Regions from separate parts of the Homo sapiens genome. Here all the other regions are linked to region 2. Evidence: fine-mapped QTL for protein levels in blood plasma. A gene starts in region 2. Each other region holds a variant in brackets. All regions are shown on one strand. Distances are between the middles of the regions.

Region 1 (9,417 bases), 40 kb before region 2:
GCTCAGGGGCAAGGCACCCAAACACTGAGATGCCAAGATCCAGCTACCCACACTGAGGTAAGGGAGGAGAAGGATGAGGGAGGGGCGGCAGGGCAGGGAAGATGGAGGGTTCACAGGGCACCTTGAAATCCGACAGCGAAGCCATCAGCTCGTCCAGCTCCCTGGTGGCAGAGGAGGCCGAGATGCGTGTCTGCTGTTGGGTGGAGGTGACGCGCTGCGGGCTGCTCATCTCGCCCTGGTTCACAGTGATGGCAGGGCTGCAGGGTGGGCACAGCATCAGTGGGGAGCCCACAGTCAGCCCCACACTTCCCGGGGATCAGATCGACCTCTCACCTCGGACACTGGGGTCTCACCATCCCCAACCCCAGGGAGGTCCACCAGCTCCCTGTCTCTCCTGGGGACCCATCACTGGGTCAGAAGAAAGGGCAGTTCAATGGCACCAGGAAGTGCCAGGAAGACTCCTCTAGCCCCCAGCCCAAGTGAAAGCTGGCCTGCGAAACAAGCCCAAGCGCCCTGTGTTTCCTCCACAACACTGGACATGGAGGTGAGGCTACTGCAGTAACACGACGGCACTGGTAAGAGCTCGCGTGTTGGGCACTCACCATGTGTGCCACGCACTACACACCAGAAACCATTCCAAGCGCTTTACATGGATTACTGGTTCTCACCCTTACTGAGGTAGGTGGTCTTATCCCAGTGATCCCATAAGTTCTTGTCCCATTTTACAGATGGGAAAACTAAGGCTTGAGAGCTGACAGTAACTGTCAGAGCCAAGATGTGAACCCCACTGTGTGGCCCCAAAGCCTGTGCTAAGAGCTGCTAAGCTCCAGGCGCCCTCAGCCTGCACAACGTCTGTCCTTTCTGACTGGCAGTGACTGGCTGAAGGCAGGGATGGTGTCCATGTGACTCACCACTATCCCCCCAGTGCCTGGCAAATGGCAGACACGGGAGGGAGTGGGTGATACCAGGGCTAAGGGGACAGACACTGGACCCGGGGCAGGCTGGGCCAGCCCTTCCCCACCTGGGGAGGGCCCAGTGGGTACTCACACGGGGCTGGGCACGGAGCTCTCCAGTTCATCCAAGAGACTCTCCACACTGGGCCGCACGTCCTCCAGGCCCCGGCCCCCATTCCGCTTAGGCTTCTCTTTCGTCAGGGGCCCAGCTTTGCCTCCCAAGGGGCTGTTAGTCTCTGGGACACCATAGAGGGGGCTCAGGGCCCCAGGAAGCGGGGGGCTTGAGTTGGCCTCATCTTGCAGAGAGGAGAGAAAAAGGCTGCTCAGCCCTTGAGCCCTCCTGGGATCTAGAGGTCAGCAGATGGGCCCTGGGCCCTGGTAGACCCTGCCCCAGGGACCCGGTCCTACCTGCAGGGAAGCCTGGCGGGTTATGCTGTACAGCGTTCAGTTCCAGCAGCAGGCGGTCGAGTTCAGAAAGGTTGCTGCCCAGGGACGTGCTCATTACGGTGGGTGAAGGCTCAGCTGATTTCTGCTTGTTGGGGAAGCTTTGAGAGGCAAAGGAAAGAAGATAGTGAGAGATGCTTTCTGGCCTTGTACTGGCTTGGCAGTTCCCAGATTCCCAAGGAGAACAAGGCAGAGGAGATGCGAAGTCTTCCCCCGCAAGAGGACAGAGGGTAGGGAAGGGATGTGGTAAGAAGAGGGGAGGAGGCCGGGCACAGTGGCTCACGCCTGTAATCCCAGCACTTTGGGAGGCTGAGGCGGGCAGATCATGAGGTCAGGAGATTGAGACCATCCTGGCTAACACGGTGAAACCCCGTCTCTACTAAAAATTAGCCAGGCGTGGTGGTGGGTGCCTGTAGTCCCAGCTACTTGGGAGGCTGAGGCAGGAGAATGGCGTGAACCCAGGAGGCGGAGCTTGCAGTGAGCCGAGATCGCGCGACTGCACTCCAGCCTGGGCGACAGAGTGACAGAGCGAGACCCCGTCTCAAAAAAAAAGAAAAAAAGAAGAGGGGAGGAATGAAGTCTTGCTTCAGTTCCTCAGCTACACGGAGATGCTGTGATAGCCCAGAATGTCCACTGCATGGAGATGGCACTGATGAGGTAGACGGGCCCACCGACAGGCCTTCTGCAGCTTAAACCAGAATAACCCCACAAGGCCCAGTTGCTATGCCTGCTCCCGGGCCTCCGCTGCCTCCCACCCTGGCCAGGTCCCTGAGATTTCTAAGCAGGAGGGAAGGTGCCCTGGGCAGACTGGGGCAGTACCTGTAGACGTGCTCCTCCTCACCCACTCGGGAGCACGGAGAGCCAACACTGTCCTGAGGGTTGGAGACACTGGAAGTTTTGGCACTGGAGCCGTACACAGGTGATGAGGACTGAGGCTGCGAGAAGGAGAATGCTCAGAGGCTACCCCGAGGGGAGAAAAAGGAACAGGGGCCAGGAGCAGCTCCAGTCACCCCCAGGAGGCTCCTGCCCACAGCCAGTCTCACCAGGGAATTTCCACAGTTGGGCCAGGAAACCTGTGATTAACCACTTGGTCACTGTTCCACTCACGTGGTGAGTGGGAAGAGCAGTGTCTGGTTGGGAAGGGTCGACTGCCCCAATTCCATTCCATCCCCTGGCTCCCTAAGCCCCTGCCAGCTAAGTTCCCTCTGTCCCCCAGCCTCCTTGGCCTTCCCAGCCACTGTCCCCGCCTCACCTGCTGGTGGATGAATCGGGAGC[T/C]GCTGGGCTGCCACTGGTCTAAGGGGTCAAGGATTGTGCCATTGAGGGCCTCGCTGGACGGGGGTGGGGGGACGGGGGGTGGCACGGCAATCTCCTGGTATGTGTGGTTTCCAGTTGGGTATGAGTAGGGGGTCTCCTCCGACAAGAACACAGGCCGTTTGGAGATGTGGGAGGTGGTAGACTCCAAGTCCGCCAGCAGGGCGTCTGCAAAGAGAAGGCACGGGTAGCAGGTGAGAACCGGGATCCTGGGGACTCTCCCGTGGCAGGGCCCTCCCTGCCTGCACCTCAAGAGTTAATGCCTTCTAGCACCTGCCCCACCCATGGGAGAAATGACCAGCCTTGGGACAGGAAGCCACCAGCCCCGACCAGCCTAACCAAGAGCCGGCTCCCAAAGCTAACTTCTTCTGGCCACCCAGGACTGAAAGTGCTCTAGAGGCGGGCTCTGGGGCTGCCCTGTGGGATCTCCTACCTCTGGGAGTCAGGCACCTGGCACTGCGTTCCCTCCTGACAGGGCCGCGCAGCCGCGAGTGAAGTGCCTGTCTGGAACTCTGAATCTGCAGGGCAACGCGGAGAGAATGGGCGGGAGGGGCCCCACGTCACAGGGAGGGGCCCTGGCTATGCCAGGCCCTCACTTGATTTCTAAGAGCTTAGGCTTTCCCAGCCCCCGACTGGAAGGGGCACTCAGGATGGTCCCTGCCCTCCTAACCAGGTGGAAGCAGAAGCCCAGGCTCCAGGTTCCTCCTGAGGCTCTAGGCTTATGGGGTAAGGTGTGCGGGGAGGTGGGGGCTGGAGTGAGGCTGGTGCAGCGGTCCCCACCCCCTCAGTGAGCAGGGGGCAAGACTGCTCCATTGGCTGTTTCTGCGGAAGTCTGGCAAGCAGCCCGGCCCCAGAGGCTCCAGGCCCCCACTGTTCTGCTTTTAACAGCGGCAAGGGAGCCAAATCAGCCCTCTAGTGTAAGCTTCCATTACCCTGGCACCTGGCAGCCAACAGGGGGGCACTAGGTCTCCCCAGTCTCCAGAAAAGAAGGGTATAGAAGGGCAGGAGTAGGACCTGCTGACCCCCACTTCCTCCATCCCCTCCTGGGACCCTCAACAGCCCCACGGCTCAGACAGCCTGGCCCTGGATGCCACACCCTCATTCCTGCCCCGTTCACAACTTGCTTGCTCTCAGCTCCCCGGTAACCTGCTGGGTCCAGGGAGCTGACAGCTTGATCCCTAGCCCTCAGGATAATAAACATCTAAAAAGCAATGGCTGCGTTTATTGCCACTTATCAGTAGCAGGCAGACTGCTAGGCATTCTAGCAGCATGTACGAGGTCTCCGTTAATCCCCCTAATACCCCCTGTAGCTGGAAATGATTCTCCCCGAAGCGATGAGGAAAGCCGGGCTTGGAGAGGCAGAGGTCAGAGGTGTTTGCTCCAAATAACAAAGCCAGTGAGTGGCACAATTGTCTGACTCCTCAGAAGCCCCAAACCCCAAAAACCTGGCCTGTAAGAGGCCACTATGACTACCAGATGATGCCATACTTAAAGGGTTCAACTTCCTGAATGTTGGAGGCCCAAGCTGTGAGGCCTGCCAGTGTGATCCTTCCTTGTGGCCTTGCTCCCAGTCCCCCAACCTGTGTTCAGAGGAGGGAATAGAGAAGCAAGGCCCTCACCCAGGGCCTCGGTCTATGGGGCCACACCTTGTCCCAGCTGCCTGTCCTGATCTCCTACCCTCAAGGCTGGCCACACCTACCCCATGCTCCTGCCCAGATGGACAGAGGGGATGTCTGTTCCAAGGCCCAGGACCCCGGGTCTGGTCGCCTGACCTCCAAGGAAGTTCAGGTCCTACAGCCCGCCCCGCCCTCCGGGTCCCATGGAGGAGGCCTGGCTTCCTGTCTCTAGCAAACCGGAACTAGAGGGAGTTGGTAGGTATCTAGGTAACGGCAGAAAAGGAACCAGTGTCCAGGCCAATCCCCACGGCCTCTCCAGGGCCACACCTGCTGTCTTGGCTTCACGCAGTGTCCTCATTTCCTCTGGGCCCAATCAGCAATGGGTGGATCCCTCTTTCTCCACCATGGGCAGGGCCAGCTAAGAAACCCCATAGGACTCCCCAGAGCAGGCAACGAATGAGTGCAACCCCAGTAGGGGGCAGGAGCAGCTGCCATCCTTGAAGGCCCACTGGGGCCAGGAGCTTCACCTTTGTTACCTGCCATCCTCACAACGCCACCAGCACAGATGGTATAACTGCGGTTCAGAGGCAGAGTCACATCCCACACTGCCAAGGCTGGATGAAGTGACAATGCTGGACTCTGATCTCAGGTCTCTTGGACTCCAAACACCCAACAGAAGACAAATGGTCAGGCTTCCTTGTCAAACATTTTGAATCAGGGACTCCACCAAACACCCGCTCCACCACAATGTGATTCTAAGCCTGGGCTTTTGGTTTATGGATTGGATTCAGGTTTACAATGTCAACAGGCTCTTGGGAGCACAGATCCCTAGGCTGGTGAAGTATTGGTGAGAGGATGCAGTCCTGGGGCACAGAGACACAAGATCACTCATTCTGAGGTCGAGCCAGACCTGAGTTCAAGTGCCAGCTCCCCTCTCTACCATCCATGCCACAGGGCAAATCGCTTAGCTTCTCAGGGCCTGTTGTCTCAGTAAGCTCTTGAATAACTCTGACCTCAAAGTACTGGTGTGAGGTTTATAAGGGCTAGCAGGTACACTGGAAGCTGCAGACATCAGTTGCAAATATCAGGCTCTCCAGACCCAAGTCACTCTGCAGGAGGAAGCTCCATAGCACATTGGAAGCTACAAACATCAGATCTGATTTGCTCTGTAAAATCCAGAATAAGGTCTTCCTCCAAGGAGAGCAGTGTAGGTAGGATGCAAAGTACTAACTTCTTCTAAGTCTCCTAAGTCTTTTCTGGGTAGAATATGAGCAAACCATGAAAAGGGCAACCTTGAAAAGAAAAGAAAAGTAATAAAGTAACATTCAAATTGTAGCATGTCCCAGCCTGGGCAAAACAGTGAGAGCCTGTCTCTACAAAAAATTTAAAAATTAGCTGGGTGTGGTGGCGCATGCCTATAGTCCCAGCTATTCAGGAGGCTGAGGTGGGAGGATCACTTGAGAACAGGAGTTGGAGATCGGCTTGGGCAACACAGTGAAACCCCATCTCTACAAAAAATTTAAAAATTAGCTGGGTGTGGTGATATGCGCCTGTAGTCCCAATTACTCAGGAGGCTGAGGCAGGAGGATTGCTTGAGCCCAGGAGGTCAAGACTACAGTGAGCTACAATTGCACCACTGCACTCTAGCCGGGGTGACAGAGCAAGACCCTGTCTTAAAAACAAACGAACAAATCATAGAGTGCAGATGTCAGGGAGAAGGCACATCATTATTCAGTTTTCTCCAAAGTTTTGTCTATTTGAGGGACAGAGAAAAACCCCAGCAAGTCCATCCACCAGCCACAGGGTCTCTGGTATGGCTTCCTCCTCTCTCTCCACCCTTCATTCTCACCTAGTGATTTGGACAGGCAAGGACTAGGCAAGAGGGGTAGGGGTTGGTGCCTCCAAACCCCCCACAAACTCCTCAAGAAAGAAAACCAGAAATACAGGAGGCAAGCCAACAGTAGACTCCTAGCTTTACTTTGATTTCCAATGGGTGCAAATACCTGAGACTTCCCCATAGGCTGCAAAATGGTTAAGGGTCAGAGTCCCCTTGCAAGCTCAGCAAACGTCCCCCCTGGCTTGAGCAAACAGAGCTGGCAGACACTGCACACAGGAAGGAGTCCACTTGAAGGCAGAGCCCCATCCCAGCGGGGTCCCCCAGTGTCCGGCTCCAGCCTTTCCCTCTGCTCTAAATATTCCTGCTCCTCATACCCCAAAGAAGGTGTCAGGCTATCCACTCTTCAGAGAAAATGGTACCCACTGAAACCATTCAAGACCAGGAATACACCCTCCCTTCCCACATGCTGGGAGGACAGATTCCAGACACGCTGCTCGGAAGTAGTCGGGAGACCTCATTCAAGCTAAGAAAGGCCTCAAATTTCCTTGGCATTACTCTACTAAGTTTCCAGGTCCAGGCCTGGGGCCCTCCAGACCCAAGTCACCCTGAAGGAGGAAGCTCTCTCTCTGGGGCTTCCCAACCACTTTCTGGAGGAAACCCACCCTGAATTCTGCAGGTTTTCTGTCTCTCTGGGCCAGCGGAAGTATGCAACATGAGGAGGTAGGCCAGGCTGTCTCGAGGCTGAGGGCAGGCTAGGTGCAAAGTCCCCAGCGAGCCATGGGCAAAGGCCACGGAGCTATGTCCTGGCTCCGCCCTGGTGAGGAAGGGGTGCAGACTGTCTGCTGCTCCCCACCAGAGGGCACCATTGGCCCGTCAGCTTCTTGCCACTGGGTAACCTCGTGCAATCTTGCAATTTTCTAGCCGGGGAAGACTGGGGAGCCCCTGGCCATGGGCGCAGTGGGGAAGTTTCTATCCTTAGAGAACAAGGCTGAGCTGGAGGAACACAGCAAGCTAGTGGGAGGAACACAGGTAGCCTGGTATCACTTGAAGGCACAACCCAAGGGTGACATGCAGGGCTCTGGAGAACCAGAGGGGTGCACGCCCTCGCTTCCAGGGCCCTGTGCAAATGCAGCACCGTGTGCGCCCCTATCTGCACCCCATGGCTGCACCTGGTCGGAGCAACAGCATGGAACAGCTGCAGCTTTGGGTCGGGAGGCCGCCCTGGGGCAGGTGGCTGGGCAGAAACAGTGCACTACGGCCAGGCTGAGAGGAAGAAGCCCTTCCCTGGGCCTCAGCAACTGACTGAGCGTAATCCTTACAACCGGTGGGAGCCGCTGGAGGGTTAAGGTACAGACACCCTCAGCCCACTGCTCCGAGGAGGAGGGGACCGGTTCGCCTGCATTCCAGGGCAAGTGCTGCAGCTGCATCCCTCACATTCCTGTACCCACCTAGGGGCTCCGGGTGGAAGGAAACCTGGGTCCCCTTGTACCTACAATGGGGGGATGTCCCCCAGACTGTGGCTCTGGGGACCCCGGTTGATCCACTGACGCATGGCACTCAATATCAGATTAAAGAGAATCAATTAAAACCTTCCGCCCCCACCCCCGACTGCAGCACAGAAACAAGCCAGGCTGCTTCCTCCTACCTAAGCCCCTGCCACTTCTTAGTGTGTGATAAAGACTATCAAGACCAGAGGCCTGGAGCTGGACAGGTGCCAAGAGAGAGGAGATAAAAGTCCATCTCTCTGAGGGGGTGGGAGGACCCAGAGCGATTCCATTCTCTCCTCCCAGGCTCTGAGGACTTTCAGTGTTACAACTTGTACGGTGAATCCTCAGTCACCTGGGCTCTGCTCAATGGCTGAACTGCTCGGATAGGCTGCTTAACTGCTTTTGTGCCTCAGTTTCCTTGTCTGCCCAATAGGAATTCCACCATTTTACTCACAGGATTGGGACTACATGAGAAAAAGATATAAAGTGCTGACTTAGCACAGTGCCTGGAATACAGCACACAGGAAATGGGAGTTGCTAAATAGATTACAAGCTTCTTCCCAGGGAGGTGTTAAGCCCTAGGAGGGGAAAGAAATCACCTCCCCGTCCTATCCAATCCCTGAGGGCAAAGGGTGCTGCCCTCTAGTCCCAGATCAGCAGGAAGCAGGTAAATGTGGGGCATGGAGCCAGCTTTTCCATCCCTTCTTGGAGTTTACAGGCTGCCCTGCCACACCAGCCCCAGCGCCAGGGCCCCGTGGTCCCTGCCCACCTTTGCCATTCTGGACTCCTCCACCAGCAGCCCCAGGCAGAACTAGAAGAGGTATAGTCCTGTGGCCCTCAGGCAGCGCCCCACCTTAGCACGCCTTGCATTCTCGAGGCCTGGCCCAGGAGAGGCCCACGTAAGAACAAGGTATTTTCCAGCCCCTTCACCCACCTTCTTCTGCAGGCCAATTTCACTCAGCTTTCATTGCCCCAGGCAGGGAGCGGCCAGTGCAGCTTCCTTAGGAGCTGACAAGCCAAAGGAAGGAGCAGCAAGCACCGCCCTGAAAGCTCCAGCACCAGCAGCAACGGGCTGCCATAGCACAGGGGCCTTCCCCGCAGCCCTGGGCCAGCTGTCCATCCCTGCCATCTGATAGGAAACCCAGACTCCCAGAGAAACAAGTCCCTGTCCTAGGGGGTCTGGGGATGCCCAGCCTCATGGCCTGTCTATCCTGTTGGGTCCAGAACTCTGGACAAGGGAGGTTCCCAACCCCCTGATGACCACCTGGGCAGCCTTGGTAGCTCTGAGTGTCAGAGAAGCTGCGGCCTCCTTACAGTTGCCCACGCTCAGGGATATAAGCAGTGAGCAGGGCTTGGCCCTTCCTAAGGAAGGAGCTATGTAAACAGCAGGACCAGCTCAGGGATGGTCTCATCTCAGCCCCTTTGGTGAGACTCTTCCAGATTAGGAAGGAAAACAGAACGGGAAGGCGGGTCTCCCCCCTCCCCCTGGCTCCAAGTTCCCCTCCCCTCCCCCAGCCCAGAGCACATGAGCAGTTAGAGCAGAGGTAATCTAATCCGCAGCGGGGTGCTTTCACTCGGTGAGTAAGTCCCCAGGAATGGTGAGCTGGGTATATTTATCCTGATAACCGTCTGTCCTCAGTAAGGGCCAATCCACAATTAGGCCAGATCCACTCTGCCCCACCCACCCCCAGCCCAGGGACCTAGGGCCTGGACACTGACTAGGAACTCAGTCTCCTTGAGGGGCCTTCCCTGCCAATTTGGGTTCTTGT
Region 2 (9,651 bases):
GCTTCAGAGTCAGATACTCCAAGCAGGATGACTAAATAGGAGAGGAGGGCTGCTCAGTGGCCCACCAATAACTCTGGCCTTCCATCAGCCTCTCCAGCCAAGGGTACACCCAGTCTCTTCAATGCATGACCATCACTAGGGAAGCTGGAAAAAAGGAATACTGAGATATTCCCTCAAAAGACCTTGAACCTATAGTGACAGGGCTTTGGGTTCCAGTAGGCTGAGCATTTCTCCATCAAGCTATGTCTGCCCAGGCAGCAGACAGCTTCACATATCAGAAAGTGTACCCGCTGAAGAATCAAACCCACCAAGGTTTGAATCCCAGCTCTGCCCCTTACTAGCACAAGCCCAGGAGAAGGTCTGGCACTGATGCAGAGCCCACCAGGAGGGCACTATCGCTGCATGGGTAAATGCCGCCTCTGCCACACGCCCAGCAGCTGGGTGCCCTGACTCTGCCCTAACACACAGAGGGACCACAGACAGGAAAGCCCAAAGTCCAGACTTTCCATGGAAACAGGGAGGCTCCATAGCTCCCAATGCCCCAGGCAACTCCTCTGCCCCCCTAGCACTACCCCCAAGGACAATGAGGCACTGTTTTCCAAAGGGTCAAGACTGCTGAGAAGCTGAAAGAAGACATGTCCAGATTCCAGCAGCAACTGGGCACTGCCAACAGCTGGCTGTTCCCCCTGCTAGAGGATGGGAAGGCAAAGCTACCCAGTCTTGCACTGGACACACCCTTTGCCATTTCCTGGGATGGGCCCCTAGGGCAGAGATTGTTAAAGGTAACTATCAATTACTCAGCAGGCCCCAAGGCTCATCCCCCTGGTTAGTCACCAGCACCTACCACCTTATGATGATTAAGATAACCGGATCTGGAATTGGATGAGCCTGGGTTCAAATCCCAGCACTACCACTAAACTTCCCTGAGCTCAGGTTTCCACATGTATAAAGTGGAGCGAAAACACCTCCCTTTCTGAAAGGTTGTGATACAGCTCGTAAAGTGCTGAGTACAGTGCCTGTCTCCCATGAAGCGCACATGATCATGATTAGACCACAGTTGTGGTCAAAGCCCCCACCAAGTACACTGAGAACATGAACAGAGGAAGAGCAAGCAATCGGGTTAGAAAACACAGTCAGAGTGCATCTCAGTGTTGTGGGAACTCTGTCCAGGAAACTCCGGCCAGAACTTGAACAGAGCGAACTCTGGGCCAAACCAGCATCTAAACAGTAATAAGAAAAGCCACCAAGCAGCCACCCCAAAGAACAAAGTGGAGAGAACACACAGGGAAGGGCAGAACACGCTGTGTTGATATTTTTCTGCTCAGAGAGCTATAAATTTGTAACTTATTAAGCAGCACATGGTGAGTCTGTCATTGGCAACTATGGGAAGGAGAAGAGTTCCCCATTTTTTATTAGACCAAAAAACAAAGTCACAGAGGAGGTGATGCACCCTCTGGCCTTGCTACCGGACACACCATAAACTCTCCCCTGTGTTAGGGACCAGGAGGCACACGGCTGAGAGCACGCTCAGGAGAAAAATAAAAACAAGAGGTCTGGGCTTTGTGTCCACCCTAAGGAAAACAGCTGAGCCACCCTAAGGAAAACAGCTGATGGCAGTGTGCTGAGCCGCCATCCAGACAGCTGACGGGGCCCCAGTGCAAAGGCAAATTCCTCTCCCCTCCTGCACACCCCATTCCTCCCACCCCAGGCTCCGGTCAGTCAGGCGTGGCTTGCCCCTTGGGAGCTCAGGCCAAGGAAGTCGGGCAGCCCGGATGTAAGCAACTGGGAGTCTATGGTAGAAAGCAGTAGAAGTTACAGGTGATCGCCATCACCCAGTGGCAACCCCTCCTTCAAGTGCCCTTGCCTCCTCCCCAGGAAAAAAAGTCTTCTCGGTATACAAGAGCCACAGATCTGGGAGCTAGGAATTGGGCTTCCAGTTATGGTTTTGTCATTTCATGGCTGTGCAGCCTTGGGCAAGAGAATCAGCCTCTCTTCGTCTCGGCTTTCTCAATCTGTAAAAAGGCAGGTGGTCATGACAGCATTGGCTTTAAGGTGGAATCTGATAAAAGGGTTGTTGTGAGGATATCACAAATCGAGGTAGAGGGAAGTACTCCACAAACAGCAATTTAAATCCCTACAATCCCCTCTCCCGTATACAGTACTCTCTTTCCTTTCAGAACTCAGTTTCCTGGCCCTAAATGGAAGACTGTCAGAAGACAGGAATTCCAGATTTCGATGGCGAGCTCTACAAAGACTTTCTCAGTCCTTGAAACAGCACGGGGACTGCCGAGAAGCAACAGAACTGCACCAGCACTTTAGAAACTGTAACTTTGCTCCCAGTTCCCACTGGGAAAGCACTCAGACTCTTAGATCCTGGTTCAAAGAACATCCCCCAGCCTCCTTCCAGCTGAGCTATTTTTATGTGAAAAAAAAAAATACCTGCCTGGAAGCCATGCCAACCTTGAGCACACTGGAAAAATGGGTGCCAAGCCTGACCCAAAGGCAGAACCACGCTTGGCAGCCATCTCACTCTGCAAAACAGGCAGGACCCTACACCAACCCCAGCTCCAGGATCTCAGGGGCACCCTGATCCCAAAAGGAAGCTGGAGGGAAGCAGTCAAGTCCAGCACCTACAAATAGCCAGTCTTAACTTAGTGCCCGGCGCTGCTTGGTAGAGGTCCATCAGTCCTGTCTGCTGAATCTACTCCTCAGAGCCTGGGACAGAGGAAGCATCAGTGGTCACACAAGCCACCCACAGTCCAGAGAGGAAAGACAAGGCTCCTGCAGAGAAGAAACGTTGCCCCCCTCCTCACCTCCCAAGCTCAGGGCCCTCCAGCTACAGGCGTGAAGGGGAGGGAGAGACAGCGAATCCTCCCACTCCTGCGTTCACGCCACCCAAGGCATTCCTAGAACCCTGGCACCAACCCCCTTGGGTTTAGAGTCGGCTTCCAGGAGATACTTTCTTTCCCCTAACACCAGATCAAGACTGGACTGAAAAGAGTAGCCTTGGGGCTCCAATAACAGGAAAACAGTAAAACTCTGTTCTGGGCATCCTGTCCTCTTTCACCTGCGTGGCTTCCAGCAGGGCCTGACGCAGAGAGGGTGGAGGGGACTCTGCTAGCCAGGACACGTTCAGGGATGGTCATACCTTGGGGCCCACCTTCCACCTCATTCCCCTGGCATTTCACCAGAATCTAGGGGTGGGGAGAGAATCAGGACTCCCAAATTACCGTTCTAGACTTAGATACCATGGTAGACGGACTGGTCTGTGAATTGAGGGGCTGGTCCACAGAGCGGGGAGGTCAGTGAGAGAAAATGAGTGATGGGTCCTTGAAACGGGGTGACCAGATTTGAAGTGGGGGGTCAGAAGAGCAGGCAGACTGGGAAACTTGTCTTTGAAATGGGGGTGTGGTCATCACACGCTCATCTCTAGCTTTTGCATCTGACTTGTGAAATGAAAGGGGTGGGCTCCGAGGGGTTATCCCTGAAGGGGGGTGCTAGTCTGTGAAGTGGGGGGCGGCCCTGGAGGGACGGGGAGCAGGTCGAGGAAATGAGGGAGCAGCCCATGAGATCGGGCAGCTGCTCCCCGAGTTGGGCGGTCGATCTGTGAGGTGGGGGTGGGGAGAGGTCTGCGAGGTGAGGGTCCCGTAGCTGACGAGGTGGTCTGCCGCAGGAAGTCTCGTCCCTGCAGCGGACGGGGTGGGTCCCTGAGGGGCGGGCTGGTCCCTGGGGCCCTTCTGGGAGATGGTGATGGGTCCCCGAGGTCGGGGGTCCAGAGGTGAAGCCGTCCCAGACGGGGGGTCGCTGCTGTGCGGTCGGTGCCGGGGCCGGCCTGGCCCGAGACTAAGGCCCGGTTAGGGATCCCAGCCCCGCGGAGCCCCGGCCGGCAGGGACAGGAGCTGAGGCCGGGGCCGCCGAGGGTGGGATCCCGCGGCCCCTGCCGCTCGCTGGCGCCCTCCTGGCCCCAAGCTGCGCGCCTCTCGCCTCCTCCTCCCTCGGCCTCCCGCTCACTCACCGAGGTCGTCCATGGCCGGACCACGGGCGCCGGCTCAGGGTCGCGCTAGCTGCCCGTCCCGGGGCCGCTCGTCTATGCCCCGCAACTTTTCCGCCGCGAGCCTCGGCCCGGAACGGAACGCGCCGCCGCCGCGCGCGCCCGCGCCCGCGCCCGCCGCGCGCCCCGCCCCCGGCCGCCCCCTGTGCACGCGCGCCCCGCCCCCGGACACCCCCGCGAGCTTGCTGGCCCCGCCCCCTGCGCACGCTGGTCCCGCCCCCGCCAAGAGCCCGGGCAGTGGGCGTCGCTGGGCGGGGCGGTGGCGCCCCCTCGCGGCTAAGCGGGCAGGTGGGCGGCTCCCAGGCCTCCAGCCACTCCCATCCATCTTTCTGTCCCTCTCAAAGTCACTTGCCTGACCCTGCGGATGACAAATCCGTCCACAGTCAGCCATGTGTCTGTGCATTCGTCAGCCACTGGGTCATCACATGCCTGTCCACTGGACAGTCAGTTTTGCCCACCTGTCCGTCTGTCACCTGTAGGTCACCACCCAGGAGGACCATAAATCAGTACCAGGCAAGGCCCGGAGCCCGTGGCTGACCTTTCCTGGGGTCGTCCTCTGGATCAATGGCAGTGCAGCTCGCAGTTCACCCTTTCTGGCCCAAACCCAATACCTGTGTGGTTCCATCTCTCTTAATATTACTTCCACACAGCCACCCTCCCTAGACACTTTTCCAAAACTGCATGGGGCAGAGGGGTCCCCAGATTAGACATTAAAGGGAAAACTACAGGAAAGTCACACCCAGTGCTCCCACACACTCGGAAATTGGGTAATAATAACAACTACCATTTATTGAGTGTCTGAATAGACAGACACTATATAGCTATTCTCTAAATTAATCCTCCTAGAGGTACTTCCCTACCCGTTGGGATGGGTGATGGCAGTTTGTGGATTTTATATAAAACTGCTCTGCAAGTACAGCTTCGAGTTCCCCTTGTCCCTCAAGAATCCAGGCCTTCTGGGTCAGATCAGGTCCTCCAGAAAGCAGATGAGATGCTGAGATAAAGCTAGGGGTAATGCCCGTGACAGAGAAGGGGAAATAAGCAGGGTTGGGCAAGGAGACTCAGATCTGACAAACAGGTCAACCCATCAGGGAATTCCAGGACAAAAAAAATGAGAAGTCTCCTTGGGCAGAAGTATCCGGGTTCCAATGCTCCCACCATGTTCAGTCATTTTATAAAGGCAGATCCAAGCAGCTTCTGTGGCTGCCACATTCTCCTATAATAAATTCAAGACCAAAGACTGTTCCTCAAACACTCTATTGCGTGGTTTTCCAGCATCTTGCACATACCTCTATTTTGTTTTAGTTTTTGTGTTTTTGTTTTTGTTTGAGATGGAGTCCCAATCTGTCGCCCAGGTTGGAGTGCAGTGGTGCAATCTCAGCTCACTGCAACCTCCGCCTCCCAGGTTCAAGTGATTCTCCTGCCTCCTGCTGGGATTACAGGCGCATACCACCATGCCTGGCTAATTTTTGTATTTTTAGTAGAGATGGGGTTTCACCATGTTGGCCAGGCTGGTCTTGAACTCCTGATCTCAGGTGATCTCCTGCCTCCTGGTGGGATTACAGGCGTGTACTACCATGCCTGGCTAATTTTTGTATTTTTAGTAGAGACAGGGTTTCACCATGTTGGCCAGGCTGGTCTTGAACTCCTGACTTCAGGTGATCCGCCCCCCTCAGCCTCCCAAAGTGCTGGGATTACAGGTGTGAGCCACCACGCCCAGCCTGTTTTTGTGTTTTTAAGACACAGTCTTGCTTTGTTGCGTAGGCTGGGATGATGAATAAGACTAACATGATGTCTACCTTCTTGAATCTAAAGGTGCACGCAAAAGAGCAAAGTGGTTAGCATGAAGGATGAGTAGCCTCGCCCCACTCCCAGCTGTGTGGAACAGCATGTGCAAAGGTCTGTAGACAAGACATTTAATACTGACCACAAGCCTAGGAGATGAGCATTGTTAGCCCCTTTTACAGCTGGAAGAGTTGAGAGTCAGAGGTTGAATTACTCCAGGTCATACAGCTAATAAGTAAGGAAACTGAGATTTGAACCTGGGGAGGCTTATGCCAAGGCCTGGTTATGAAACGGCTAAGTGAAACTGCTAACAACTTAGACCAACCCCAGGGCATACGCTTGTCCACTTCTCCAAAGGTCTAAAACCTTTCTTTTTCAAAGCTGTGTGGTCTGGAAATGCGAGGCACCCATTGAATGGGCAAGTTTCCCATTGCTATGCAGAGTTCTAAAGAGAACTGAAGCTTCAGAGTTGAGTGCTGGTGCACTCGAACACTCAGGTCCCTGCCAGGGATTTCCTCATGTAAATCATTCCTAAACCCCCATTTCCTCCCTGGCTTCCTTCTTCCCTTGGACTCTCACCCCACAGCAATTAAACTTGGTGTCTAGTTCAGGCTGCTACAACAAAATACTGTAGACCGAGTGACTTATAAACAACAGAAATTATTTTTTCACAGTTTTGGAGGCTGAAAGTTCAAGATCAGGGTGCCAGCACAGTCAGGTTCTGGTGAGGGCCCTCTTCTGGGTTGCAGACTGTTGACTTTTTGTACCCTCACACGGCTCAAAGAGGGTCCCTTTAATAAAGGCACTAACTAATCTCTTTCATGAGGGCCCTGCCCTCATGACCTAATCACCTGTCAGGCCTCACCTCCTAACACTATCGAATTGAGATTAGATTTCAACATATGAATTTTCAAGGATATGAACATTCAGTCCCTTGCATTTGATAAAATCAATCAGGTTTTTTCATTCTTCCTAAAGATTAAACGACATTGACAGAGCAGATGGACAACCCTGCTGACTTCTTGCTAGTGGTTCATCTTGGGCAATTTACTCTGTGCCTCAGTTTCTTCCCCTATAGAAAGGTTAATAGTAGCTACCTCTCAGAGTCCTCATAGGACTAAATAAGAAACGACACACCTAGTACTTAGAATGGTCCTTGTCACCACAAAATAACACTCTTCACTCAGCAATAGAAACAGAACTCGACCAGGCTCACACCTGTAATCCCAGCACTTTGGAAGGCCAAGGCGGGCGGATCACTTGAGGTCAGGAGTTCGAGACCAGCCTGGCCGACATGGCGAAACACCATCTCTACTAAAAATATATAAATTAGCTGGGCATAGTGGTGTGCACCGGTAATTCCAGCTGCTCAGGAGGCTGAGGCAGGAGAATCACCTGAACCCAGGAGACGGAGGTTGCAGTGAGTCGAGACTGTGCCACTGCACTCCTGCCTGCGCGACAGAGTGAGACTCTGTCAAAAAAAAAAACAAAGAAAGAAAGAAGGAAGGAAGGAAGAAAGGAAGGAAGGAAGGATGGAAGGAAGGAAGGAAGGAAAGAAAGAGAGAGAAAAGAAACAGAATGCAAGCCGGATATGCAATCAAAACTTTTCTTTTTTTTCTTTCTTTTTTTTGAGACAGAGTCTCACTCTGTCGCCCAGGGTGGAGTGCAGCGGCATGATCTCAGCTCACTGCAACCTCTGCCTCCCGGGTTCAAGTGATTCTCCTGCCTCAGCCTCCTGAGTAGCTAGGATTACAGGCACCCGCTATCACACCCGACTAATTTTTGTTTTTGTTTTTTTTTTTTTTTTTGAGACGGAGTCTTGCTCTGTCGCCCAGGCTGGAGTGCGGTGGCGCGATCTCGGCTCACTGCACGCTCTGCCTCCCAGGTTCATGCCATTCTCCTGCCTCAGCCTCCCAAGTAGCTGGGACTACAGGCGCCCGCCACCACGCCCAGCTAATTTTTTCTATTTTTAGTAGAGACGGGGTTTCACCGTGTTAGCTAGGATGGTCTCGATCTCCTGACCTCGTGATCCGCCCATCTCGGCCTCTCAAAGTGCTGGGATTACAGGCGTGAGCCACCGCGCCTGGCCAATTTTTGCATTTCTTTAAGTAGAGATGGGGTTTCACCATGTGGGCCAGGCTGGTCTTGAACTCCTGACCTCAGGTGATCCCACCTGCCTCACCTCCCAAAGTGCTGGGATTGCATGTGTGAGCCGCCGCGCCCGGCCCAATCAAAACTTTTTTAGCCAAGTGCAATGGCATATGCCTGTAGTCCCACCTACATGGGATACTGAGGCAGGAGGATTGCTTGAGTTTAGGAGTTTGAGTCCAAACTGGGAAACTAGCAAGACCTCCTCTCTAAAAAATATCTTTAAAAAAATAAAAGAAACAGGCCAGGCACGGTGGCTCATGCCTGTAATCCCAGCACTTTGGGAGGCCAAGATGGGTGGATTACCTCAGGTCAAGAGTTTGAGACCAGCCTGACCAACATGGTGAAACCCCATCTCTACTAAATATACAAAATTAGCTAGGTGTGGTGGCACATGCCTGTAATCCCAGCTACTTGGGAGGCTGAGTCAGGAGAATCGCTTGAACCCGGGAGGCGGAAGTTGCAGTGGGCCAAGATCCAGCCTGGCTTACAAGAGCAGAACTCCATCTCAAAAAATAAAAAATAAAAAAATATATGGCCGGGCACGGCGGCTCATGCCTGTAATCCCAGCACTTTAGGAGGCCGAGGTGAGCAAACAACCTGAGGTCAGGAGTTCAAGACCAGCCTGGCTAACAGCCTGGTCTACTAAAAACACAAAAATTAGCCGGGCATGGTGGTGGGCACCTATAATCTCAGCTACTCCAGAGGCTGAGGCAGGAGAATCGCTTGAACCTGGGAGGTGGAGTTTGCAGTGAGCCAAGATCACACCACTGCACTCCAGCCTGGGGGACAGAGTGAGACTCCATCTCAAAATAAATAAATAAAATAGATAAAATTAATGTTAATAATATATTTTATTTAATTCAATATATCCTCAGTGTTGGCTGGGCATGGTGGCTCACACCTGTAATCCCAGCACTTTGGGAGGCCAAGGCGGGAGGATCACAAGGTCAGGAGATCAAGACCATCCTGGCCATGGTGAAACCCCATCTCTACTAAAAATACAAAAATTAGCTGGTGGCACGTGCCTGTAATCCCAGCTACTCGGGAGGCTGAGGCAGGAGACTCACTTGAACCAGGGAGTCAGAGGTTGCAGTGAGCTGAGATCCCACCACTGCACTCTAGCCTGGCGACAGAGCAAGATTCTGTCTCAAAAAAAAAAAAAAAAATCCTAAATGTTATCATTTCAACTTGTAATCAATATAACAAAATATCAGTGAGATATCTTACTCTTTTTTGTATGAAGTCTTCAAGATCCAATGTGTATTTTACACTTACAGCACATCTCAATCCAAATAGCCACATTTCTTTTCTTTTCTTTTTTTTTTTTTTGAGACAGGGTCTCACTCTGTTGTCCATGCCGGAGTAGAGTGGTGAGACTGAGGCTCACTGCAGCCTCAATCTCCCAGGCTTAAGTGATCCTCCCATCTCTGTCTCCTGGGTAACTGGGACTACAGGCACATGTCACCGCACCTGGCTAATATTTTTTATTTTTAGTAGAGATGAGATTTTGCCATGTTGCCCAGGCTGGTCTTGAACTCCTGGGCTCAAGCCATCTGCCCACCTCTACCTCCCAAAGTGTTGGGATTACAGTCATGAGCCACTGCATCCGGCCCAGCTAGCCACATTTTAAGTACTCAGTAGTCACATGTGGCTAGCGGCTACTG
Region 3 (9,370 bases), 130 kb before region 2:
GCCCCATCTCACTAAAATACACCCTGGCTCTGACTTCTGTGCACAGTAATGCTTCAGAAGCACGCCATATCACACGGGCCACAGGAGCCCTGCTGGCACATTCCTTGGCTTTCCTAACTAGGGCCTGGCACATAGCACAGTAACCACACCAAGAAGTGCTGGGCCAACTAGAAGAGGAAGGAGGGAAAAGAGAGGTATTAAGATGGGAACCCAGGTCTGTATCTAATTTTACAAAACTACGGTGCCTAGAAAGAATGCCTAAAATAGCGATTCCTAACTTGATTCAGAGTCACGGGTCAATTTGAGAATCTGACAAAAAGTTAGGCTTTATTGCAGTGTAAAGCACACACAGAAACCCCCTACATTCCATCCCTAAGTGTTCAGCGATCTCCTGGAGGCCGTCCACGGAGAACTAGCACACAACTAGTTGAGGGCGCACTGCTGGTGGTCTCTGATCCTAGGACCTCCTCACAAGCCAGGTGTTAGGGCTTAAACACATGCTTGGCCCCCACTCACCTTAACGAACAGGCTGGAAAGTTTGGCCGGCAACTGCCCTCCGCCTGTCTCGATGTGGTGTCTCATGAGAAAGCCCATGCCCCGGACCCCGCTCACCGCAATGGGGATCTGTGGAGAACAGACAGCGCTAGACGGGAGGCCCCCCACCCCTTCCCCAGAGCCAGGAAAACCCCAGTTCCTAGTAATCTCCAGGACCCTCCACTACATCACCACCACATCACCCCTTACACCATGACAGCTCTCAGGCAGGCTGCCCCGGCTGAGGCAGATGAGTACAGTCACTGGTTCCCAGGAACAGGGATCCAAGACCTGACCCAGAAGGGGCATCTAGATTCTTCAACCCAAATTCCTTGTTTAGATGATGAAACTGGGGCCCAAAGGGATCAAGTGCTGGTCCAAGGGCACAGCAAGTTACTGACAAAGGTAAAATTAGACCCAAGCTTCTTAAGCCCCAGTCTGGGGTCCACCCGCGCTGTGTCCACAAGGTGCTGCCTATGGGATGTGGCCTATGCCTATGGGATATGGCCCGAATGCCTTACCCTGTCCGCCGTGGCACTGCTCAGGATCATTTCCTGAACATCACTGCTATATCTGCCGGCACAAAGTCTGCCAGGAGCCACATTCACAGCCACGGAAAGTGCCAGGCTCCGCCCGTGCCGAACCATCCAGTCAATGCCGGACACGTCCGCTGGGTGGAAGGACACGACTGGGATCAACCGGTATTTTACAGCATGTCCCCAGCACCCATGAGGCCCATGGGCCCACCCCGCTGGAGACCAGTGTGCTGACCCAGAGCACAAGGAAAACTCCAGGCCACATTCACATGGACCTCCCTGCTATCTTGGCAGAAGCTCCCCAAAGTGGCACATTAAGGAAAGTAAGGAAAGCCTGCTCATGAACCACTCCGGGCTTACAGCTGTGTTCTTTGAGCAGAGACACTCAGGGCTACGGGACCACTGCAAATTCAGTATTGTTTGTTTGTTTTAGAGACAGGGCCTCGCTCTGTCGCCCAGGCTAGAGTGCAGGGGCGTGATCAAGGCTCACTGCAACCTTCAACTCTTGGGCTCAACTGATCCTCCCACCTCAGCCTCCTGAGTAGCTGGGACTACAGGTGAGTGCCACCACCCCTGGCCTGGATTTTGCTTTAACTGCTGGATTCCCAAGGAAAGGACAGTCCAGTTGCTAAAAGATCCTCTGAGGGAGGGAGGGAGATGCCCGTCGACTCTTCGCTAGGGCTGAGAGGCCCAGGTCCCTGAAGGGGAACTCTCCAGTGTACTTACCCAGCAAGCACTGCTGTAGAACGGCACTAAGCTCCTCTTCAGTCAAAAAGGCACACAGTTCCCCTAGGCACCCGGCTGAGGAGATGCGAGTGTTGTCCTGACAGGGAAGAGAAGGGAGTGAGGGGGTGCAGGGAACAACACCAGCTGTGTGGGAACCAAGGCAGGCAGCTCTAGAGCCCAGGATGGACAGCAACAAAGAAGGTGGAAAAGCCAACTCAGAGACTCAAGATCCAGTCCTTCCTGTAGGCACTCGTGCTCCCCTGCCAGATTGGGCTGCCACTGGTATGGAGTTAAACATTACACAGCCAGCACTTCACTTAATTATAGAAAACCCCAGTGTGTATGCATATGGTAATCATCCTTGTAATAGCAGTAATAACTGTATTTACATAGCATCTTTCTTCTTAGGAAGGCTGAATGTTTCATATTTATTATCTCAATTACTATCAACAGCCCTGTGAGGCAGGGAGGGGCGGGAGGGGCAGGAGGGGAGGCACCTGCCCCCAGCCACCAGGGAAGCCGGCTAGAGACGGCCACTCTGAGCTCCTTTCTCCCACAGAGTTTGTGTCATCTTGTGGCCAGAATGACTCCTGCTATCTCCCTACTGCATGAGTGCCCCACTGCCACCGAAATTACTTGGGTTCATCCTAGGAAGTCAAACTAAAGCCACTAATCAAGCCAAGGAAGATAAGGAAAGGCAAGCACTTCCTGTTCAAATCAGAGCCAGGTACGCGAGCGGCTCCGTGCTCCTCCCTGGCCAGCTAACTATGGAATACCAAGAGAGGATTTTAAGTTATGTTCCTTATTACAGGTGCCAACTCAACATGTCCCCAAAACAAACCACCAACCAGGGACTCAATAACCCAAAAAGCTAATGCCAGGCTGGCACCCTGAACTGCCACCTTCAATCTGAGTGGAGGTTCAGAGGGTAAGAGAATGGACTGCCAGCAGTTTGGGCCTCTGAGCTCGAAGCAGAAGCCCAGGTGCCAAGCTAAAGCTGGCTCTGACACCGACTCTCTCCAACTTCATCTATTTTAAGCTGCACTGTGGTAAAATGCAAATATGTTTCAATACTAACTTTTGCTTGCACTGTACACATGACTCTGTAGAAGCCCTGAAAGACTGTGACCAAGACAGCAGACTTTCCTGTCTGTCCCCACAGAGAAGGCTGGGGCTGGAGTCCGACAGCTGGCGCCTGGGGACCAGAACTAGGCCTTTGGAGCCATGGGAAGTGCAGCAGCAAGTGTGTGTGTTGCAGGTGTGGGCAGGAGGAGTGTGTGTGGGTGTGTGTGTGTGTCAATGACGTGTAAAACCATGTGAGCCCAAAGGCCCTCTCCTCCTAGATTGGCCCTACAAAGTAAATTAGACCACAACAGAGGGCTGTCTGAAAAGGGAACAGAAAACTCTTCTCCATAGACTCAACTCCCTACTGGCCCCACAGTGCTCGCAGCCAAATATTTGACAGATGCTTCCAGACTAGGTGAGGCTGATGGAACTGGGACAGAACCAGGAGTCCAGGGCTTCTGGTTTGGACTCTACTACTTGCTGGGTATGGCCCAGACAAGTCTCACCCTCGAAAATAGACCTCTAAGACTTGCCACCGGGACACACCCTGGAGACCATTTATCCCACTACACACTAAGTTTCTTGAGGTCTGTGACCACGAGGTCTATGCACCTCTGGGATAGGCCCTTTAGCTCGGCAAATGTTTCACAAAACAATAAATAAACCTCTTCATTTTACAAAAGTGGAAATGAGAGGCAGACAGAGAAAGTGACTTCTTTAAGATCAGAGAGCAAATAGGTGAGAGGTCTGGGTCTCTACAAAGCTTACTTGCCTCATCTATAAAATAGAAATAACCGGCCGGGCGCGGTGGCTCATGCCTGTTAATCCCAGCACTTTCGGAGCCCGAGGCGGGTGGATCACCTGAGGTCAGGAGTTTGAGACCAGACTGACCAACATGGTGAAACCCTATCTCTACTAAAAGTACAAGTATTAGCTGGGTATGGTGGCGGACACCTGTAATCCCAGCTACTCGGGAGACCGAGGCAGGAGAATCGCTTGATAGGAGGCGGAGGCTGCAGTGAGCCGAGATTGTGCCACTTCACTCCGGCCTGGGTGACACAGCAAGACTCAGCCAAAAAACAAACAAACAAACGGAAATAACCAATATATCCACAATACCTGCCCCGTTTCCCTTGAAACCCGAGGAAATGTTGGTGAAGCATACAGGGTGATAGAAATGTCAGGAATGCTTATTACTACTGAGCTGTACTGGTTCTAACACAAAGTGAAGAACTCAACCTAAGGAGGAGGAGGGAAACCAGTGGTCCAGTGCTGCCACTAGTCCTGCCTGCAGCCGTACCTCATCGTGTCCCAGCATGCTCAGCAGGAGTGAGACGATGTTTTTCCGGATGACGGCATCCACTTTGGCCCCTGCTCCCTGAATCACAAACCTCAGGGCCTGCAGCATGGTGTCCCTGCAGAAGCAATGCACCGCCTTAAGCCCTGGGTGCCTCCACCACCACCCCTCCTGCCAGCGCAGGCTCGGCCCACAGCAACCCCTGGCCTCCTGGAGGCCACAGTGCTCCCTTGCCAGCGCCGTACCTGACACCTGGGTCCTCCATGGCGCGGATGCCATTGAGCAGCTCTGTGAAGAGGGGGTCCACCTTAATGTGGATGGAAATGAGCTTCCCCAGAGCATCTGCGGCCTTCAGGCGCACCCCCCGGTTGGAGTCCTGCAGGGCTTTGGTGAAAGTGGTCTGCAGCTGGGGCAGGAAGGGCTTCAGGGCAATCCCAACCTGTGGGAGGAACCCACATCCATGAAAGACAGTTGTGGTAGACCCAAAGCCACAGTGTACCACAGGCATGAGAACAAATGACAATCCCAAACCACCACAGCGAGTCCAGCTCTCATACAGGGCTGGGGACAGATAGCCCGTCAGAGAGGCCAAACACAGACAGGTTTCGCTTGGCCTCCTGGTCATATCCAGCATGCTTTGATACACTGGAGGAGCAGGAGGCCGAGGAGGCGGCGGCCGCTATCTGAGGGAGCTGTCTCGCAGCCTTGGCTGCGTTGGGGTTTGGCTTAGTGGAGACCTGTCCATATCGATAAGTGACTCAAATCCTCCTCTGAATACATTAACAAGCAGGGCAGACTATCGGCAGTACTGAAGCACAGTTCTAATGCCAAGACAGGGAAAGGGACTCAGTGTATAATTGCAGAGCCCATCTACTGAGCAACTGACAGCAGGATACGCACTCCACATTCAGCCCTCAGAACAAGCCTGTGAAACAAATGACCTTGGAGAATCCTCCCTGCACAAATGTGTACCCACCTAACTAAAAATCCAGTTCAACCCCTGACTATACAGAAACACAGGCACACTTTTGATACAATACAGGTGGGTCCAAGAGTAAAGATTTACTTACTGTTTTTTGTTTTGTTTTTTTTTTGAGACGGAGTTTCGCTCTTGTTGCCCAGGCTGGAGTGCAAGGCGCGATCTCAGCTCACTGCAACCTCCGCCTCCCGGGTTTAAGCAATTCTCCTGCCTCAGCCTCCTGAGTAGCTGGGATTACAGGCACCCGCCACAATGCCCGGCTAATTTTGTATTTTCAGTAGAGACAGGGTTTCTCCATGTTGGTCAGGCTGGTCTCGAACTCCCGACCTCAGGTAATCTGCCCACCTCGGCCTCCCAAAGTGCTGGGATTACAGGCTTGAGCCACCACGCCCGGCTTACTTATTGTTAATTAGGAAAACCAGAGTGACTGTTTGGAGGTTCAGTGCCAATGAAGGTCTGGAAATACTGGAGTTGGGTGGGTGTGCAGGCTGTGGCAGGCACACAAAGGGGATAGGGGGAGCTGGTAAATCTGAGCTGTGCGAGGTCAGGAGTTCGAGACCAGCCTGGTGAAACCCTGTCTCTACTAAAAATACAAAAAAATTAGCCAGGTGTAGTGGCAGACACCTGTAATCCCAGCTACTTGGGAGGCTGAGGCAGAAGAATTGCTTGAACCCAGGAGGCGGAGGTTGCAGTGAGCCGAGATCGCGCCACTGCACTCCAGCTCTGGGTGACAGAGTTAGACTCTGTCTCAAAAACAAAACAAAACAAAACAAAAAACAAAAAAAAACAAAAACTGCAATATCTTTAAACAATGTTTTCCTTGTATTTACGTGGTCCTGAATTTTTTCCTTTGAAAAAGTAGTTTTTCAAAATAATAGCATTTCACATGTACTGAGTGCTTAGTATGTAGCAGGCATCATGCTGGACATAACCTCATCTAATCCCCATATCTAGCAGCCCTTCATGAGGCAGCTGGTATTATTAGTCTCACATTGTAGGTGAGGAAACAGGCTTAGGTTATATGGCTTTCCCAAGGTCATCCTGGTCACAGAGCTAGTAAGGACGACTTGGAATTGACCCATGGTGTAGCATGTCTGAAGTCCAAGGTCTTACCTCCCTCTGCTATGCGGCTCTCCACAATAAATCTGTTGCCCTGCTGCTACATGACACCTTGTATCAGGCTCCTGCAGACAGACCTGTTCTCTAAGATCTGAACAAACTCATCAGCCACTCACCTTAGCCAACAAGAGGCTGAGTGTCTCGAGCAGAGCCGCCTTCACATTCCAGCTGAACCTGTCCCCCAGGATGCGGATCAGAGGGCCAGTGATGCTGACCACGGAGGGCCTCAGGGCGTCAGCCGAGGTCAGGCGGATTACCAAGCCTAAGGCTTTGGCTGCCTCCTCCTTCTGCTCAGGGCTGCCAGTCAGGACTCCTTCCCGCAACACTGGAAGGATGGAGGTCACTCCCTGACAAGAGAACCACAACTGAGAGTCAAATCTCAAACACCCTGGGCCCTGGTGTCTCCCATGCAAGCAAAGTGGTCCTGACAGCTGTCCTCCCCTCAACTCCATGGGAGATATTGATTTGGGCTGAATCTCAGGATCACAGCCTGAGAGGGCTGGCTATGGAACGGTCTTGGCAGAGAAAAGACGACAAGGGCCCCAACAGGCCTATCACACAGAGAGAACATGCACTGCTGTTACCCTGTGGCCCACTCACTCTGGCCAAGGTGACCTGCAGAGCTTAAACCAAAGGCAGCATGAACCCTGTCCCCATCTGACTGCCATGGAAGAAAACATGCTGTCTGCGAAGGTGCTGAACACCAACCACCACGGCTACTGCTCCAGCAGCCCCTACCGCAGACCTGGGACAGGGGTAAGGGCCAGAAGGGCACAACAGACTGCACGCCCACAGCCCCCTGCACGAGGCCCTGGCTTACCTTCTTCGGGAGGCAGAATCCTGGCACATGCTCGCCTTTGCTCTCGTTCCCTATGAGCCGGATTTCCTTGTGCAGCTCTTCAATGAGTGCCAACTGGTTGCCAGCATCCAGCTTCTGCAGGAATCCAGGAAAAAGCGAGAGGATGTACAGCCCTCTCAAGACTGCTTCCAAAGAATATATGGGGAAAGCGTGGGCGGGAGTATAAACAAGACTTGCCACGAGTGGGTAAACGCCGAAGCTGAGTGACAGGTACGTGGGGGATTCTTATAAGTCTATTCCTGTAAATGTCTGGAATTTTCTAAAAGCAAAAGTTGGCTGTGGGGTCAGCAGTCCCCTCACCTTAGTGATGGCATTTAGGGCATCCCAGCTCTCCTCCAGAACCACAGGGCTGGAGTCATTGAAGAGGCGGATCAGGCCCGAGACCAGGCTCCGCAGGTGGCTGGTGTAGTCAGCCTTTGAGCGGGAACAGTAGATGTTGAGGATGATGGCAGCAGCTTGCCTCATGCCCACCTCAGGGCTGCGGGTGGCCTCCAGCAGAT[C/A]CTCGATGATGATCCGGTGCCCTGTGTCATCCTCTACGGAGAGGATCACAGCCTGACAATTGGCCATCTCCTGCAAACCACAAGGGACATGTGTGCTGAGCAGGGATCCTCCGGGCAGACGGGACATGAGAAAGCAGGAGCAGGCTCGCCCCTTACCAGCTGCTCATCTGGGGTCCCAAGCTTTTCCTTCAGGGCCAGCATGACCGCTGGGAGGATCACGCCAAGATGACGGGTGAGGGCATCACCAGCCACTGACGAAAGGAAAGCCAGCACCCGGGTGTTGACAGGTGGCGTTGTCAGCTGGTGGAATGACAAACATTAACTCAGTGAATACTGTGCCAGGTGCTGCGCTAGGCTCTGGGAACAGACGGGTGGGCAAGAGAGCCCAAGCCCACTGCTCAGAGCCAAGCATCTACTCCAGCATATCTTGGAAGACAACAGGGGAAGGATGTAATGCTTGCACTGCACCCTCCTCCCCCAGCCCTCCAACATCTACGTTCAGAACTGGTCTTCACTGCAGGCCCTGGAAATGTCAATGCCCTGGAGCCAGAGGGTGTTGACCACATGTTGGGATTTACCTTGGGCACAAGGTAGGGCAGCACCACACGACTCTTAATAGCCATGACTTGCTTCAGACCATCCAAGGCAAACTCTGACACCTCCTCGTCATCCTGCAGAGGGTGTTGGGGACAACCCTGAGGAATCTGCATCTCTGCTGTCTCAACCAGCCACCGCCAACTTCCTTCTCCACTTGTTTCCCTCCCTCCTGTTGCACCCACATTTCCTCACTGCCGAAGGCGAAGCACAAAGCCAAGTCTGATCTTGCTATACCCACTCCCTCTGGAGGGCCCACATTGCGACTGCCTTGGCAGAATAATCGCCCTGTATTTTCCATCTACAAAGACGGCAAAAGCCAAACTGGTAGGTAGGTGTGTGGTAGATCCACTCACCAGCTGCTTTAGTAAAAATGGGAGAATGTCCTCCAGAGCCTGGTGGCCGATGGTGGAATGCAGCTGCTCGAAAGTCTTGGCTGCCGCCTCTCTGACCTCCTCCAGTGGGTCACACAAAGCCTTCCTTGCCGTGGGCACGAGGGATTCAGAGAAATACAGCACCTGCAATGGCAAGCTACAACTGTACCAGATGCAGGAAAGGCAAAGAAGGAGCAGAAGCAGACAAGAAGCACAGGCAGGGGACTCTGACCCAGCTAGGCCACCCTAACTCTCTTTGCCTGACTTGTCTTTTAACTTAACTCTTTACTGTGAAATAAAAAAAAGGAGAGAAGGGGCCGGGCACGGTGGCTCACACCTGTAATCCCAGCACTTTGGGAGGCCAAGGTGGGCGGATGACTTGAGGCCAGGAGTTCGAGACCAGCCTGGTCAACATGGCAAAACCCTATCTCTACTAAAAATACAAAAATTAGCTGGGTGTGGTGGTGCACACCTGTAATCCCAGCTACACAGGAGGCTGAGGCACAAGAATCGCTTGAACCCAGGAAGCAGAGGCTGTAGCCAAAAGAGATGGTGCCCCTGTACTCCTGCCTGGGCAGCAGAGTGAGATTGTCTTAAACTAAAAATTTTAAAAAAATTAAAAAGTAGAGAGGGGCCGCGCACAGTGGCTCACGCCTGTAATCCCAACACTTTGGGAGGTGGAGGCAAGAGAATCACTTGAGGCCAGGAGTTTGAGACCAGCCTGGGCAACATAGTGAGACCTCACCTCTACTAAAAATGCAAAAATTAGCTACGTGTGGTGGTGCAC

Direction of the effects. Positions count from the first base shown, and alleles are read on the strand shown. Strength reflects both the effect of a copy and how common the allele is.
As copies of T replace C in region 1, the plasma level of the protein whose gene starts at base 4,129 in region 2 goes down (strong association).
In carriers of allele C in region 3, the plasma level of the protein whose gene starts at base 4,129 in region 2 tends to be higher than with A alone (strong association).

What was found. PIP is the posterior inclusion probability: the model's chance that the variant is causal. Protein levels are from antibody-based Olink assays in UK Biobank. Linkage for the fine-mapping came from a reference panel and not from the study's own genotypes, which makes the PIPs less certain.
Region 1: its variant is fine-mapped to the plasma level of the PXN protein (UK Biobank, PIP above 0.99). The variant lies in the coding sequence of PXN. If it changes the protein, the assay may bind it differently, which can mimic a change of level.
Region 3: its variant is fine-mapped to the plasma level of the PXN protein (UK Biobank, PIP above 0.99).

What each region holds. Positions count from the first base shown.
Region 1 is chr12:120,221,502-120,230,918 of GRCh38, forward strand. It overlaps PXN (paxillin), which reads right to left. Exons shown (of 15, transcript NM_001385981.1): 2 at 2,650-2,876; 3 at 2,217-2,332; 4 at 1,362-1,498; 5 at 1,048-1,249; 6 at 122-257. LOC124903034 (a long non-coding RNA gene) reads left to right here. Exons shown (of 3, transcript XR_007063487.1): 2 at 1-2,902; 3 at 2,979-3,920. Among named protein-coding and RNA genes, the nearest start is that of PXN-AS1, 25 kb to the left of the region's middle. RefSeq lists silencers at 3,387-3,436, 3,745-4,039, 6,993-7,102, 8,345-8,639 and enhancers at 3,554-4,235, 4,853-4,902, 4,919-5,599, 6,793-6,882, 7,951-8,510 and 1 more. The variant T/C (reference allele first, on the strand shown) is at 2,673.
Region 2 is chr12:120,261,602-120,271,252 of GRCh38, forward strand. It overlaps PXN (paxillin), which reads right to left and starts at 4,129. Exons shown (of 15, transcript NM_001385981.1): 1 at 4,016-4,129. The coding sequence starts at 4,028. RefSeq lists silencers at 3,847-3,996, 4,157-4,436.
Region 3 is chr12:120,130,130-120,139,499 of GRCh38, forward strand. It overlaps GCN1 (GCN1 activator of EIF2AK4), which reads right to left. Exons shown (of 58, transcript NM_006836.2): 46 at 8,566-8,727; 47 at 8,194-8,286; 48 at 7,772-7,915; 49 at 7,416-7,685; 50 at 7,077-7,190; 51 at 6,373-6,603; 52 at 4,404-4,597; 53 at 4,162-4,276; 54 at 1,797-1,893; 55 at 1,056-1,204; 56 at 517-624. Among named protein-coding and RNA genes, the nearest start is that of RAB35-AS1, 18 kb to the left of the region's middle. RefSeq lists enhancers at 2,719-2,768, 2,979-3,178. The variant C/A (reference allele first, on the strand shown) is at 7,616.